Linked DNA regions of Homo sapiens: region 1 is linked to region 2. A link means that fine-mapping ties the variant in region 2 to the expression of a gene that starts in the linked region. Tissue or cell type: whole blood. Region 2 holds a variant in brackets; the other region holds the start of a gene. All regions are shown on one strand. Distances are between the middles of the regions. Region 1 holds the start of C22orf39 (chromosome 22 open reading frame 39). Region 2 overlaps HIRA (histone cell cycle regulator).

Region 1 (5,528 bases), 24 kb before region 2:
GAGAAGGACAGTCATTGCGTAAAAAGGGAAGAAAGCCCTAAGTGAGGACTGTTGGCTGATTGGAAAATAATAAAAGAATCATTTGCAACATCTTGGCTTTTAGTTACTGGCACTGACAGGGACGAGCCTCATCAGAGAATACTCTGTTACTTAAGATTTATTTAGAGTTACCTAAGAATTATTAAGTTTGACTTGGAAGTGGAGCAGCAGGACTTTGTAGTTGTATGCTTGATTTGGGGAAAGACAAAGAGCTGTCCCTGAGGGCCTGTAGATAGCTGCCTCCTCACCTCTTCACGCTTTCAGCTTGAGGGGAGCTCCCACTGCCTCAGCAGGAGCAATTCTGCATCCCTAATTCTGTCAAAACCTATGAAGGTGACTAAATTGTCTAACATGAAGTGTTCTTTCTTTTTCTTCATTTATCCTTTCTTTTCCTACATCAATTGCATAGGTGTCAGTCTTTGGCCTAAAAAAAGGCTTTAAATAGACATGTGTTCTATAAGTAGTGGCTGTCCCACTACTGTGGCTGCAATTTAAGTATTTGACAAAGAATGTTTCTATTTTTATTTTACATATTTTTTTCAAAAACACCACTCAGAAGAACCTGATCTGAATGAGTTTGCACTTTTATTCTCATTTCATATGGACATAACTGGCTCCTTAGTGAACCTGTTCATAGTGAAACAACTCCATGGAGAAGCAAACATGTGAATGTTAGAATGAACAAATGCTAAAGAGATGTTCCTCTCCTTCTTCCCTACTCCCCAACTCCCAATTTTAATTTATTAAATCATCCAAGCTTCTGCTGGCCTGTATTTTTTATCAGTATTTATTTGGTCTTAGATCTTCACTTTCTATAACGTGAGATCTTTTGACATGCTAATCTGATTATTTTAAATTTGTTCCCATGAGCCACTGTGCCTGGCCCCATTGGGAATAATTCTAAGCCAAGAATTTCAAGTAAAAACAGGCAATAACTAAAGCCTAAATCTAAATGTTTGATTAGGTACTAACACAGACTGGTGGTTGGGCCTCTGACCATAACTGAAGGCCTGTTGGCAGGTGCTCCGTGTTCCATCTCACCATTAGAAAAGTGTCCCTCTGGGGCTTCTCCTGGAGAAAGTAGGAAGAAACAAGGCTGCCTGATCCCTAGGTGGCAATGGCTAAGCCCAGCAGGGTCCCCCATGAGCCAGGGCTAACCCTGCTTCCAGACATGGGGGTCCTGCCCTGGTCAGGGCCCCTCCAACACTCCAGAGAGGAGAGAATGGTGGCCCCAGGGTCTATCCACGTCTTCAGTGAAGAGTGTCTATGAGTGTCATGATGTTCAGTACTTGGCCTGTGGCACAAACCATCATCACTGGAAATGGGCGTGGTTTTGGAAGGCATGAGCACTGTGGGGACTTACCTGAGCCTCCACTGACAAAGTCTCAGTTTTACTAGCAGAGGGAGAAACCCTTGGTGGGTAGACAGCCTTCATTTGCAGGATCACATCAGCTAACAGACTGTCACTTTATGCATAATGAAGAATGTTACAGTACCTCTGGCTCTGGGTTTTTGTCTTCACTAAGCAACACCTGCTGTGTATGCAGTGAAACGCCTGGTCCTTTGCTGGAGGCACACTCCCCTGCCTGGACCAGGATGGATTCCATTGCAGAGCCTTTTAATGACACAGTGGGGCCAGTTGGAGCACTGATCCTGGTCATTACTCCTGCACCCTGGCCTGCAGCCTTCCTCTCAGTGTCTTATTTGGGCTTGGTCCTTGAGCCGGCTGCCTCAACAGCAGGACCCCTGGTAAAACTGCAGCTTTCTGATCCACCTCCAGGGAGTCTGTCCCAGTGTCATTCCTGGGACTGGCCCAGCAGTCCCAGGATTTGTATCAGTGGATACTGAGGATTTGTTATCAGTGAAGTGGGAGAACCGCAGCATAGGTACTGCAGGGCGTTTCTGCAAGCCCACCAGCCTCCTCTTTACTTGCCTTTGTTGCCTCTTGTGCATTGCTCCTTTTTATAAACGTCCCAGCCAGGCACTGGCGCTCCGCCTATAATCCTAGCACTTTGGGAGGCCAAAGTGAGAGGGTCGCTTGAGGCCAAACTAGCCTGGGTAACTTAGCAAGACCCCATCTTTACAAAAAAAAAAAAAAAAAATTAAAAATTAGCCTGGTGAGGCTGTGCATGCTTTTGGTCCCAGCTGTTCGGAGTCCAGGAGTTTGAGGTTGCAGTAAGCCATGAACACGCCACGCCACTGCACTAAGCCTGGGTGACACAGCAAGACCCTGTCTCGAAAAATGAATAAGGTAAATGTTACATGTCTCCCGCACCCTTAGAATAGAACTACAGACATCCAAGCCACTCCTACCCCGCTCACCCCTGCTACACACCGCCTCCATACCTTTGACCGGCCTATGGCTGTACTCGGATTGCATTCTCAGCCTCCACTTCAAGCCTGCGTTCCCTGGGGAGGTCATTCAACCCTAGATCCACCATATGTCATGCCCAACCAATCTCAGTTACTTTGCGAGTTCACCTCCATCCTGAGTGGACGCTCAAGCAAGACTGCTGGAGCTGCAGATCTGGGAGGTTCGCTGCACCACCTTGATGCTCAGTATGTACTTTTGAAAATATACCGGATTGTTGAGATTTGAGAAAATCTCATAAAGCTGCTGAAAAGAACTGGCCAGAGCCGTGTGATTTGAGAGGCGGCTGACGTAAGGTAGCTGCGCGGCCCAGGATGCCCGCCTGGCCCGGGGTGAATGGCGCTGTCGTCGCGGTGGTCGCGTAGGCTTCGCGCCAGGTCTCGCCCCGGATTTACCCTGCGACCCCGGCCCTCCGCGCGCGCCGCAGCCGCCCTCGGTTGCTATTGGTTGCTCGTCCTGTTTGTCGGCGCTTCTCGAAGAAGGGGGCGAAGACGTGATTGAATGTGTCGGTGCTCATTAGTTCTTCTGTCAGTCGATCACGAGGTGCCGTTTTCTTCATTTTTCATTGGCTGGCGGACTGAGGGGCGGGCTTGGCGCGCCGGTCGCCCAGACATGGCGGACGGCAGCGGCTGGCAGGTGAGTGTGCTGGGTCGGAGCCGGGAACCACCGGGGTCTTCCGGAGGGAGGGAACGGGACTGGCTCGGGGCGTAGGGCGCGGCCGCCGGGCCCCGCTCAGGCGCCGCCTCTCGCCGCAGCCGCCGCGCCCCTGCGAGGCCTACCGCGCCGAGTGGAAGCTCTGCCGCAGCGCCAGGCACTTCCTACACCACTACTACGTCCACGGCGAGCGGCCGGCCTGCGAACAGTGGCAGCGCGACCTGGCCAGCTGCCGCGACTGGGAGGAGCGCCGGAACGCCGAGGCCCAGGTGCGCCGGGAGGGAGCGGGGCGGCGCTTCGGAGCGCCTTGCGGGGCCCAGCTTTCCCCACCCCTCCACGCCCCATGCCCCGCGACCTAGCCGGGGACTGACGGGGTCCCTATCCTCCTCACGCTTCCTTTCTTTTGAGAGATTGTGTAAATTAGCATATCAACAGGACTTTCAGAGGGCGTGAAAGACAAAGGAGGAGACCAGCGAGGAGGGGGTGTAGAGTGGTTTAGAGAGGGAAGAGGGCAGCCGTCCGGTGTTAGGGTCATCAGCTGGCCTACGCAGGAGGTGATGTTGCTGAGTCCTGAGTGACCAGGAGCCAGCCTTCATCCAGCCCCGGTAGACACCGCTGAGAAACAGATAAGGCCTGGGTTCCTGAAGCAGAGGGTAGGTGGATGGTTGGAGAGCGGTATACCAGGGACCTGGCGGGCCTTTTGATACGGAGTTTAGAGTTTAGTCTAAAGTGTGCTGGGAGGCATAATTCGATTTATATCTTTAAAAGATCAGTCTGTTAGCAAAGTGTGGTGGCGTGCACCTGTGGTCCCAGCTACTTGGGAGGGTGAGGCGGGAGGATCGCCTAAGCCCAGGAGTTCAAAGCTGCAGTGAGCTATGGTCACACCACTGCACACCAGCCTGGATAACAGAGGGAGACCTGTCTCAGGGGGGAAAAAAAAGAGAGAGGGTAAAAGAAGTTCAATCTGTTTGCTAGGGTGTAGAGAATATATTACAGGAGCAGAGAGACCGGTAAGGAGGTGGTTCTAGTTGTTTTTTCGTCCAGCAAATATGTACCACATTGGGTGCTCTTGGGGATGCACGAGTGATAAGAAGAGTCTCTGCCCTCCTGGCACCCACACTGTAGTGTAGAATACAGTGCTACGGTGGACCCCTTGTGGGAGAGGAGATGGAGAGAAGCCAGCCGAAAGGTGCGAGGCTCATGGGGAGTGCCAAGGAATGAGAATCAATGGGACTGATCAACACTTCAACATTATTAAGTGTATACAGTGATCTGAAAGAGATGAACTGATGTGGAAACCAGACTGCTGTATAAAAGAAAATGATGACTATTCCATAATATGTGAAAGTCAAAAAAAGTAAGAAAGCTGACAGCTTATATAGCAAGAGATTGATAACTTTAATGTATATATATGTGCGTGTGTGTGTATAAAGAGCTGTTATATATATATCAATAAGAAATATAGGGATTATTTCAGAATGGAAAAATGGCCAAAGGACACAAAGAAGCAATTCATTAAAAAAGAAAGCCAGCTGGGCATGGTGGTGGGCACCTGTAATCTCGGCACTTTGGGAGGCCGAGGCAAGGGGATCGCTTGAGCCCAGGAGCTTGAGACCAGCCATGGGCAACATGGTGAGACTCCATCTTTATAAAAATAATAAAAAAGGAGAAAAGCCTGGGCATGGTGGCTCATGCCTGTAATCCTAGCACTTTGGGAGGCCGAGGTGGGCAGATCACCTGAGGTCAGGAGTTTGAGACCAGCCTGGCAACATGGCGAAACCCCATCTCTACTAAAAATACGAAAATTAGCCACGCATGGTGGCAAACACCTGTAATCTCAGCTACTCGGGAGGCTGAGATAGGAGAATTGTTTGAACCTGGGAGGCGGAGGTTGCAATGAGCCGAGATCGTGTCACTGCACTCCAGCCTGGGCAACAGAGTAAGACTCCCTCTCAAGAAAAAAAAAGAAAAAATCAAATGGCCAGGTGTCAGGTATATAAGTCTAAATGACAGTAACAGCAGAAAGTGGTGTTGATAGAGGTTTGAAGAATTCTGGGTAGTTGTGCAGTGTTGGTGGGGGTGTCAGGTGTTCTGATTATGTAAATGTCAGATACATACCTTTTGACCTTAAGTTTTACTTCTGGAACTTTATCCCAGGGAAGTAATTGGATAACAGTGTACAGTTAAAAGTTAGAATGCTAATTATGTTTTTGATACTGCAAAAGCTGAAAACAACCTAAATTTCACTAATAGACATTTGACCAAATAGCTTTTTCCACAAAGTGAAATACCAGATAGCCTTTGAAAAGAATGGTCGGTCATCTCCCTGGGTATGGAAAAGTGCCTACAGTGTATTGTTTAGTGAAAAGAAAGCAGGAAGTAGACTAGCCAGCAAAAGATTATCCTATCTTTAGGGAAACATGTTAGCTCTAAAATGTGGACCAAAAAAAGATATCAGGGAAGC
Region 2 (5,000 bases):
ATATGTGACATAAAAAGTTTTTCCATCTCTTCCTAATCTGTTCATGAAGTCAGTAATTCTTGCCTCACCTGCTCCATGTGGTAGCTCAGAAAATGCAAATTCTCTCAGCAATTTCTCTCCTGACTTATGCCTGAAGACAGTAGGTTGATTTAGGAAAATAACCAGAGTACATCTGAAGAGTCAGAAGAAAACTGGGTGAGATTTTGCTGTGGATTTTTCACTGATTTATGCAACAAACATTGAACCTTTCTGGTAAGAGTTCTGTGGGGACCAGAGGTAAATAAGGCTCTCTCTCTGAACAGAAAGCTGTGTGGAAGATAGATGAGAGAGATTGACATACAAACCGTATTCTAGAATGCAGGGCAGGGGAAACAGGAGCTAGAGGAATAAGCGTGATAGCCCAAGGAGGAAGGGCACTTCACCAGCAGAGTCGGGTTTGTGGATGTGTCCTTGGACTGAACCTTGACGTGACTAGAATTGTGATGGCAGAGAAGGCGCTACAGCACATGAGACCATCAGGAGAAAAGGCCCAGAGGGTGAAAGCATTTAGGGAAAGACATAGAACATGTTAGGAGGGAGGCTAAACAGGGCAAGAGGGAGAATGGGGCTGGGAGGCAGAGCCTTGCCAGCAGCTTGAACTTCCTTCTTGGGGTTAGGGGAGAGAGGAGAACATTGAGGCTTCTGAGGAAGCTGGATGAAACACCCAACCTGTGTCTTAGGCAGGCCCTAGAGGAGTTAGGAATTTCTAGTCTTGGTGAGATGCTCAGGGAGACAGGGAGATCACAGGTGATGGAGGTGAGAAATAGAGAGGCACTAAAGACAGGGTAGAGGTAGAATTAATGGGACTTGGCCATGTAGGCAGGTGACTGTAGATTTGGGCCACTCTGAATGTATTTATTTACTTATATATTTTCTTTATTTATTTTGAGACAGAGTCTCGCTCTGTTACCCAGGCCAGGCTGGAGTGCAGTGGCATGGTCTCAGCTCACTGCAACCTCCACCTCCCGGGTTCAAGTGATTCTCCTACCTCAGCCTCCCGAGTAGCTGGGATTACAGGCACATGCCACCACGCCTGGCTAATTTTTGTATTTTTAGTATTCGGTATTTAGTGTTTTTGTATTTTTAATACACATTTTCGCCACGTTGGCCTGGCTGCTCTCGAACTCCTGACCTCAGGTGATCCACCCGCCTCGGCCTCCCAAAGTGCTGGTATTACAGGTGTGAGCCACCGCTCCCAGCCTCTCTCTGAATTTATTTCTTTAATATGCTGCAGAAAGAATATGGATGAAGGCCAGGAAATGGGATTTTCTTAAACATTTGTTTTACTCTAAGAAGTGGTTGAAAACTATTTTCACTTTATGAGCAGAATCATAGTTACACAGCTGGGAGGGACTTCTGAGGAGCGTCTGGCCTTGACCACTGAAGCCAAGTAGGAGACCTGCTTCCACTGTGCTGATCTTGGGTCCTGTCGGTGACCAGGAAGAGGATGCTCTGTGTCTGGCTTGACCCCTCCCTTTCCCCAGAGGTTGCTAGCATGTTCTGTTCATCCGGGGTGTTTGCCTATGGACTGCAGAAGTGTCTAGCACATGAACCAGAGGTATGGAATGAGCCCTGGGGACCAAAAATTTATGCAAAGCACATTTTATCATCCTGCCAGAGTCAGCAACAACACCTAGAAGTGAGTGGGATTGTGAACATTGTGCATATTGTCAAATAGCACAAAGGGAGTGTTGCAAATATTGTAGGGTTGCCTGCCTTGTTCCTTGTTAGCAGAACCCCAATTTTTTTGGTCTGCCTTCTGCAGGCCAACCTGCTGATAGCCCTAAGCTGATGTGTGGGTAAATGCCAAGGATTTGTTGAGGAACAGCCATGTGATGCCATTTTGGCCCTTGAGACTAGGAGGGGACGTCTGCTGGGACCTCCTAGGGAATTAAATAAGAGGAGATGCTTGACAGGCTAGTCTCTTCTGCTGGACTTTACTAGGTCTGCGTGTAAAAGCCAGCTTGGAACAGGGCCGACACTGATGACAGGAGAGGAAGACAGAGGGACACGTCTCTTTAAGTTGCTAAATTAATGCACCCTGAAGCTGACCT[A/G]TCTCAGGACTTGTTATATACGATAGAAGATTACCCTCGAAATTCTCTATGACTTGCAGCATTACAGTTCACAGATGGAAACTTAGGCTGAGTGAGATGAGGTGACCCCCTGGCACCAAGATTCCACTAGATGTGATGGAGATGTGTTGAGAGTCACACTTAGACTCCAGCCCAAGCCCAGACTTACTCTTTCTAATTTGCTAAGCACTGGTCTTTGTGCTGAGGCTGGCCACTCCGTCCTGGAGAGCTTCAGGCCCATTTCCTCCTCAGAAGGACAGCTTTCAGAAACCACGTGGTACAGCATGGGACCAGGAGTCTGGTCCCTGGAGCTTGTCCTCTGACTGCTTCTGTAGCCATTCTGAGTGCCTTGGGGCTTCTAACCTGGTAGGTTTCTCTTGAAATGTGCTTGGTGAGCCTTTTCTGGCATTTGATTTTCAAGAGTTCTCTGGTTGTGGGGTATCGAGAATGTTTTCAGTGAGAAGCAGAAGGGAGAGGTCTGTGCCCCAGCCTTGGACTTTGGGTCTTCCCCATTGGCTGATTGGTCCAACTAGGTCATGTGCCCTCTCTTGCATCAATCATCGTTGCCTACTGGCTTACATAACGGGCAGAGTGGATATCTGAATAAAACTGGAGTTCTATTAGACACCTCCCTGGGGGAGCATATGCTCCTGGAAAACAGACTTTGTCTTTGCTCATGCCCTTTTCCCAGGGCCAGGAATGGTACTTGGTACACACCATAGTAGTCACTCAGTAAATGTTGAAGGAGTGCTGAGTGCTGGAAGTTGGTGATGGAAAGTGGCTGATGGATGGGCAGCTAACAGTGTCTGTTGTCCTTGGCTGGTAGAGTTGATGTACTGCAAATAAACTTCTTGTTCATCCTGGCTGGCTCTTTCTAGTGGAATCTGCTGGCAATTCCAATGATGAGGGGAAACATTCTGCCCAAGCCTTACCCAAGGAGTTCATTTACATGATTCTGTCTTCTAGAGCCTTCCATTTTAGGAAAGGAAGTGGATGAAACAGATAGCAAATGGTTTTAAAACACTCCTGGCAAAAAGAAAACCCATTTAGATTAACATTTGTTGCTCCTAAAAGCATTGTCTGCCTCGATGCATTAACAAACCTAGGGTAGGCCAATTCCCTGGGAGGCTACCCTGGCAAAAGCCACTGTGGTGAAGACCAGACAGAAGGGACAGCAGGCCTTATTTGAGGTCCAGGGATAGACCTACGTTGGAGCAGACTCCAGGTCTGCTGCATCCTCTAACAGAAGGTCTCACATGGAAAAAACAGTTGATAAATTCACTGCTGTTTTAAGAGCTGAAAATATGTGTGTGTGTGTGTGTGTGTGTGTGTGTGTGTGTGTGTGTGTATGCATGTGTGTGAGTCAGTGTGTGTATGTTTTCAGCTCTTAAAACAGCAGTGAACCAAGCAGCATGCCAGGCTCTTGAGGAGCAGCCTGTTATGCATCCTGGCCAGTGAGACTGGGATGGGATCTGCTGGGGGTTTCCTGTGTAAGTGGAAAAGAGGAGATGTGGGAGGGGAGCTTCCTGGTGAGACACATAGCGGAATCACAAACAAGATCCTGTGAATTGGAGAAACAGCAGACTTAGAGATGAGGAATGCTGAGGCAGAGGCGGGGGATAGACGGGTTTAAGTGGGACGCTTTGGCAAAGCCTGAGTGAAAAGGTAACATTTGAGCAAAGGCCTTGTTGCAGGAGTCAGATTCTGAGCTGCAGATTTTTGCATGCAGGATTATTGGGGAGGGCTCTCGGGATCCACACCATTGAAGGAGTGAAGGAAGCAGCACCAGACAGAGGGAGAAGGCAAGCTATGATGTAAGCACAGAGAAAGCCGCAGCCAGCCCTGCTGGGAGTTCTGTAGCTGGGGAGGCCCTTCAGAATTGTCGTGGATTGGGGTGGGAGACCAGGGCCCTTTACTCCCGTGTCCACAGCCTGGATATAGGCTCTTTTGGAAAGGAGACCTGACCCTGCCAAAAGAGTGCTTCCACTGAGGGCAGGTCTGACCTGGAGGAAGACTACAGGGAGCTGTTGGGGCTGCCAACACTCCACAGATAGCTATGGGAGTGTGCTTTAGTCCCTGGAGGGTAGGGACCTGGGCATGATACCACAGCATTCGCTGCAGGCCTCATGGAGATGAGGAAGGTGCCATCTGAGGGAAGAGCATTCCAGGCAGAAAGAAGAGCTGGAACTTGCCTGGAGGGTTTGAGCAGTAGCACAGATGTCATTGTGGTTGGAGCAAGGCAAGGGCTGTGAGAGAGGAGGCCAGAGAGTGAATAGCAGACTGATTGGGAGAGCCTAGTAGGCTACTAGAAGGCCTTGATTCTCACTGCAAGGGGAGCAGAGGACTACTGTGATCTGACGTGAGTTTTAGAGATCTTTCTGACTGCTACGTGGAGACTAGATTGGTTGTGGGGGACCAGAGGGAGGGAGGAGCCAGGAGACCAGTTATAATGCCAACTACTGGTAGTAATCCAAGCAAGAGATGGTCTGGATCAGGATGGTGATGGCTGTGATGGCAAGAAATGGTTGGAGCTGGTGGGGGAGACTCTGTGTGTGTGTGTGTTTATGTAATACATTACATGTATATATGTGTTTATATGTATATGTAATATATATATGTATATATATATATGTGTATGTGTGTGTGTGTGTGTGTGTGTATATATAAACACATTCTTTTCAGGTATAAATAAAATGTCCAGACCTTAAATGTATAATGTGTTGACTTTTGACAAGTTAATGTACTTTGTAACCTGTTCCCTGATAAAGTTAAGGAACATTTGCATCTCTCCTGAAAGTTTGGGTTATGGGTATGTTGGGAAGGTAGGGTCAAATATGGGGTATGAGATAAGATAGAACAGGCCGGGCATGGTGGCTCACACCTGTAATC

The links. PIP is the estimated chance that this variant, and not a neighbour inherited with it, causes the effect. A credible set is the group of variants that fine-mapping cannot tell apart.
Region 1: it holds the start of C22orf39, and the variant in region 2 is the best candidate, but not a certain one, in a credible set for the expression of C22orf39 in whole blood (INTERVAL, PIP 0.71).

What each region holds. Positions count from the first base shown.
Region 1 is chr22:19,445,183-19,450,710 of GRCh38, reverse strand. It overlaps C22orf39 (chromosome 22 open reading frame 39), which reads left to right and starts at 3,000. Exons shown (of 3, transcript NM_173793.5): 1 at 3,000-3,046; 2 at 3,166-3,333. The coding sequence starts at 3,023. UFD1 (ubiquitin recognition factor in ER associated degradation 1) reads left to right here. Exons shown (of 12, transcript NM_005659.7): 12 at 1-800. The coding sequence ends at 41. UFD1-AS1 (UFD1 antisense RNA 1) reads right to left here and starts at 3,277. Exons shown (of 2, transcript NR_186687.1): 1 at 2,386-3,277. RefSeq lists a silencer at 3,055-3,454 and an enhancer at 2,902-3,804.
Region 2 is chr22:19,421,942-19,426,941 of GRCh38, reverse strand. All of the region lies in intron 1 of HIRA (histone cell cycle regulator), which reads left to right. Among named protein-coding and RNA genes, the nearest start is that of HIRA, 7.3 kb to the left of the region's middle. The variant A/G (reference allele first, on the strand shown) is at 2,094.